Regions from separate parts of the Homo sapiens genome. Here region 2 is linked to region 1. The links come from fine-mapping of genetic effects on plasma protein levels. A gene starts in region 1. The other region holds a variant in brackets. All regions are shown on one strand. Distances are from middle to middle. Region 1 holds the start of PON3 (paraoxonase 3). Region 2 holds the start of PON1 (paraoxonase 1).

The links. PIP is the chance, under the fine-mapping model, that this variant and not a neighbour inherited with it causes the effect. The UK Biobank Pharma Proteomics Project read protein levels with antibody pairs (Olink). The fine-mapping took linkage between variants from a reference panel, not from the people measured, so its PIPs are less certain.
Region 2: its variant is fine-mapped to the plasma level of the PON3 protein (UK Biobank, PIP above 0.99).

The regions. Positions count from the first base shown.
Region 1 is chr7:95,394,989-95,397,896 of GRCh38, reverse strand. It overlaps PON3 (paraoxonase 3), which reads left to right and starts at 1,522. Exons shown (of 9, transcript NM_000940.3): 1 at 1,522-1,620. The coding sequence starts at 1,547. LOC107986822 (a long non-coding RNA gene) reads right to left here and starts at 1,425. Exons shown (of 2, transcript XR_007060439.1): 1 at 869-1,425.
Region 2 is chr7:95,323,004-95,325,911 of GRCh38, reverse strand. It overlaps PON1 (paraoxonase 1), which reads left to right and starts at 1,380. Exons shown (of 9, transcript NM_000446.7): 1 at 1,380-1,510. The coding sequence starts at 1,437. RefSeq lists a silencer at 1,257-1,436. The variant C/T (reference allele first, on the strand shown) is at 1,329.

The DNA of each region.
Region 1 (2,908 bases):
CACTTGACACTCATTATCACATTTAATTTTAAGCTACCTATGAGGTGGACGTTCTTTTACAGAAGAGGAATCTGTAGCTCAATAAAGCTGAGTACTTTATCTAGGCTGGATCCAAACCCAGGCAGCCTGACTCCCAAACCCTGCATGCATGTCTACATCACACCCCAGGCCCCTCAGCTCTGTGAGCCCTCCTGACTTCGATTCCTCCTCTGCTTGCACTCTTTTAACATTAGTCATCTTAACAAGAACTCTAATCTATACAATTCAAGACGTTACACTGTCCTTTTAATACAACCCTTCTTCCATAGATTTTCTAGAGGCAGCATGGTAGAGGCAGCTCAGTTAAGGGCCCAGATTTTGGAGTCTGCTGCTTGACAGCTGCCTGACCTACAGCAAGCCACATAAGCAATCTGTGCTGCAGGTCTCACCTGTAAAATTGGGGTAAGGCTACCCACACTCCAGAGATTGTGTTGATAATTAAATGCGTTAACATAGGTGTCAGCACAGGCAAAGCACACAGTCAGTACTGCATAAGCGGTGGGCTTCATTATTCATCCTGTAATTACGTATTCATACTAGAATCATGTATCCCATAGGTCAGGGACCACCTTTTCTTTCCTTAATACCCCCAGGATTGGCAAATCTTGCTCTCTCAACAAATAGTTTACTCGGTGGAACCTAACAGAACTAATATTTCTTTCTGTCCGTAAATAAAAATAGATCATGCTTGAATGTGCTACTTTGCCCGAACTCCCCAAGTCTTCCCGCATCTTCAGTTCCTCCCCCTCCAACCTGGTGTTCATCAGGAGAGGGGAAAGAGCATTTCTTGCCTGGCAGGAACTCAAGACCTAGAAGAAAGAGGGCCTACCCTGCCAAGGAAATGACCTTCCCCTTCCTCGCCTCTGCTCCTCTTCCCGTTTCCTGTCTTTTCCTTCTTTTCTCCTGGTGTTTCCTTCTCCCGTTAACTATGGGGACAGACGCAGCTATTCACAAGTCCGTCTGGGCAGCACACTCCGAGGTAAGGCACGAAGGTCAGGAGACAGGTTCCCGTGCCCCAAATCCTGGAGAAGATGAGTTAAAGCTCTTCGCTTCGATTGCCTTCGCCCTTCCCGCGTCTCGGGAGCAATTCAGTGTCGCCTCACGTCTGGCCTTGCAGAAGTCCGGAGTTCCGGCTCTGAACTGGAGCTCCCCGCCATTCCCGGGCCCTCCGGTTTCTCCCTCAGGCCATCTGAGGAATTGAGGTAGGATTTCGCGGGTGTTAGGAGCAAACTCCCACCACAACTCGGTCCCGGGCTCCCTCTCCGTTGAGCCTTGACCTCTGCCCAAAAAACAAGGAATCGTGGGCGTGAAGGCGGCCTTGAACCCGGGCGGCGGGGCTCGGCGGGACTCGTCAGCGCCCTGCTGCGGCACCCGGGCCGCTCAGGTAAGTAGGAGGCGTGTGCGGGCGGGGCCGAGCGGGCCCCAATCCGTACGCGAGGCAGGAACCGCCCGCCGCGCCCCCGAGAGCTCTCGGCGCCGCGCAGTCGCCGCTGGGCACCCCGAGACCATGGGGAAGCTCGTGGCGCTGGTCCTGCTGGGGGTCGGCCTGTCCTTAGTCGGGGAGATGTTCCTGGCGTTTAGGTGAGTGGCATCTTGACAGGGCGTCTTCGACTCTCTTTCTCTCCTCTTCCAAGTGAGGTCAGGGGCTGCCTGGCGCCCCCTTCCTAGCGGGTAGGAAAGAGCAGCTTTGGAACCTCACTCCTCCATCTCACCCAGCAAACCGCCCCTTGAGACTCGCTTATGGGGAAAGTGAGCTACTTGCGTTTCCAAAGACTGCCGAGCCGAATTAGTCCCATTTATTTTTTGAAGGTTATGATCCCCCACTTTGCTTTCTGAAGGTCATGACCCCCTTTTACTTTCTGAACGTGATGACCCCTTTCCCAGCTCGCCCTCAACATTCTGCTTGGGAAAAAAGGACGTCCATTGGAAACGCCGGACTTGGGAGAGAGGATCAGGCTACCAGTTGGATGTTTACGGCTGACTGAGACATTGCCCAGGTCTGGCTAACCATGCAGAAGTACTGGGTTATGGAACCTATCCTAGATTTAAAGAGCTGGCCAGACAGCAGGGCAAACCAGCTGAAACCTGCAGGCGGTAACTGGCATTTTGTAGGCATTTGACCTTTTGAAGTGGAAGATACAATGGTGATAGCCAGCCTAGAAATGTCTCAGGAAAAGTCAATACTGGGCTAGAAAGAAGAACCTTTAAGTGATAATACACATTCATGAGTGGATCGAAAGCCTCTGCTTGCTTTCAGTTGTCTTTGAGTGTTTATGTATTTCTCTTAGTTGAAGCTGGTCTTCTTAGAGGATCACGTCTAGAATCTGTTGAGGTGCCTGGTGCCTATTAGTAATACTTCCAGTTTGAGAGTTTTATTGTTACATTTGCTCCCAGTGCAACCACATGGAGAATCATAAAATAATAGTAATAATAATAAAGTAGATCTAAGGGTATTTTTTTAAATAAATGACTGTAAGATAAGTATTGAGTCTTTCTGAATATACTTTAATAAAAATTTTAAATTATCCCTGATATTAGAAGAATGTGGAAACATTCCTTTTCACTCTGGAAACAAGAAAATTGTGTTGAAAAATAAATCGGCCAATTGTTTAAATTGTGGTTGGTTTAATGAATTTACATACTTGCGGAGTAAGTCAGCATAAAATTTAAAAATTAAAGCAAAAGTGATAGAGTTTGACTATTAGGAGACCCTGTTGAATTTTGGGAAAGCAGTTTGGAAGGAAAAGTTCAAAGGGCAAGACTGTAGGGGATTAAGTGCAGATTTATAACAGACGATACTTTAGAAAATTAGGGCTATTTCGTGCATTTAAATTAATAATATTGTTCAATTACTCATACTATTAAATAG
Region 2 (2,908 bases), 72 kb after region 1:
TCGAATACTCTTCTCTTTTGGATTCATTGGTTCTACTTCTTAGGTAGATTCTTCTGCTCCACCTGGTGTTAACCAGGGTGGCTTAGCCAGTGGTATTCAGTTGGTGGCCAGGCTGTGGTGGCTGGGCTTGTCTAATAGCCCACTTCATTCATTTCTGCTTCCTTGGTGCCGATGGTTAAGAGGTTGGCTTCAGCTGACCACTTTCCCTCTCCATATGTTCATGGCCTTTCATGTGAATGCTCCAGTGGAGTGGTCAGGTTTTTTACATAGTAGCTCAAGGCTTAAGAGCAAGTGTTCAGAAGGAGCAGAGAGAGAGGGCAGTAGTTACAATGTGAGGCCAAAGAAGCTTCCCCCCAGAAAGCTAAAGGTGATAAGTAAAGCATGTTGGTATTGGCTGGCAATATTCCACAAGAGATGAAAGGACAGATATTGCAGAAGAGAGAAGGTATAACTGGGACCAAAAGCCTTGAGAAGGAAAGAGACATGGAGCAAATCATTCACAGTAACAGCAGACAGCAGAGAAGAGAGACATGGTTGTACAGAGGCACCTCCTTTGGGTCTTTACTCAAATGCCCCATTATCAGTGAGAACTTCTCTGACTGCTATTCTTCAGCAGAGGGTATTCCTTATCCCCTTTCTTGCTTTATGTGTTTTCTCCATAACATATGTGCATATCCATAACACACACATGCATCACCTAGAGCATTATATATGCCACAGTGACATGTTTTGCTGATTTCTCAATTGACTCCCCCCATTGGAATGAACGTAAGCTTGAGGAAGACGTTTTGTCCTGTTCTGTAGCATCTAGAACAGCGCCTGGCACATAGTAGGTACTCAATAAATGCCAGCTGCATGAGGAAATGAATGAGCTGTGTGGGGGATGTACTTGAGTGAACTCTAAAGTCAGAGTGGTGTTGAGAGAAAAATGCTTGAAATCCAGATGTTGGAAGGTGACACAGAGTAGTAGCCTGGTGAGAACAGTTAGATCTTAGGGGTTCCTACTACAGCCCTCCCTTCCGCACCTTTTTGGCTGTCACCATGATCAAGCTACTGAATCTCTCTGAGACGCAAGGACCGGGATGGCACAAAGTGAGTGCTCACCAAAGCTTGACTGTCCTTTCCCATGGCAATTTACTTCAGCTTGTTTGATTTCCCCTCCCCGACTGGACTAGGCACCTATTCTCTGTCTTCTCTCTTTACAGTTGGAAGGAGCAAAATGGGACTTTTGGCTGAAAGTGCTGAGCTCCTGCGGTGGGGGCTGACCGCAAGCCACGCCTTCTGTGCACCTGGTCGGCCCAGCTAGCTGCCGACCCGGCGGGGAGGGG[C/T]GGGGCGGGCCAATCGGCGCTGCCCCAGCAGGGCTGCGGCTGCAGGCAGGCAGAGCCTCCTAGCCCGTCGGTGTCTGCGCCCATCGATCCCTTTGTCTATCCCCGACCATGGCGAAGCTGATTGCGCTCACCCTCTTGGGGATGGGACTGGCACTCTTCAGGAACCACCAGTCTTCTTACCAGTAAGTTGGGTTGTGGTGAGGGCTGCAGCCTTCGTCCTCCTCACTCCCTGCCAGCTCCACGAGCCCCCAGAAAGTTGGGTCCAGGCTGTTAACAGAACATTTACAAGCAGGTGCTAGATGCACACTCTGCGGGGGTTTCATAAATGTTTGTCCAGCCGTCATGTGTCACTTGAAAACAAACTCTTGCTCATGGCCTGAGACATGGGATAAGGAGGCAATTGCCAGGGGTGTGAGTGCCCAGGTTGTCAGCATACACGAATTAATTTTTCATGAAGATTTGTGTGCCCTGGCTACAGATTCACTTCTCAACCTGGAAAGAAACAAACTAACCTGGCTGGGGGTTCTCCTGATATTTTGTGTATTAGAGAAAGGAGCCCCTGTCGCTTCTGCGCCTTGACTGCCTGGCCATGGCAAACCTTCCAGGCTTGAAGATTCTCAAATTGAGGCTACTGAGGGCCACAGCAAAACTGCGTGTGGACCCGAGCAGGTGGAGCTAACGTGTGCTGTGATGGTTCGCTTCAGTGGGGGCAGGCGGGGAAGAGGGAACCCTGGAGCCAGCATCTGATGTCCTGGGGTTTAGCTCTGCCCCATGAGTATGCGATTTGGGCAAATCACTTTACATCTCTAACCTTAGCTGCTTCAGTAAACTGGAAATAGTAATACACACTGCCTGCGACAGAGTAGCTATTCAATAAATGTTAGTTCCCTGCTTCCCTTTAAAGTATTTAATAAAGGGTTAAGTGCTATACAAGGGGGGTGGGGATATTTTAAGAATGTATCAAAAGTTTCATAACTTTTAACAGGAGTTCAAAGTCTACAGATCATCCTAGTCTCTAAGGCTTAGTCAACAATGCCTTATTTACTTTAAAGTAAAACCTAATAAAAATTAAATATAAAAAAATTATATGAGCTTATGGACTAATTAGAAGCTTACATTCAGAATGGGTTTTTACTATTTATTGTGGATGTTTTTCTAATTTTTTTAAGTTACAGAGTGCAGAAAAAAAGTAAGAAGCAGTTGGTATTCTTGGCTTTTAAATCATGTAAAAATTACAGTTTGTGAGTTTTTATTAATCACAGTGCTGGTGGCTGCCAAAGGAGATTATAGGTATAGATAAAAATATATAGATAAAGGATGGGTTGCTGAGCCTCCTGGAGTGACCCAGACAGAGGAAGGAAGGGAAATTTTACCCACTGTTGGAAACCCCTAAAACCTAGCTACTCAACTGGGTCTGGGGACCAGATGCCTGAGCATCACCTAGGGGCTCCCTGTACAGGCAGAATCTCAAGCCCTACCCCACACTATTGAATCAGAACCAGCGTCATGGAACAAACTCCCTGGGGGATTAGAGATCATGAATCTGCCCCAGGGAGAGAAGGCAAGAGATGATATCATGA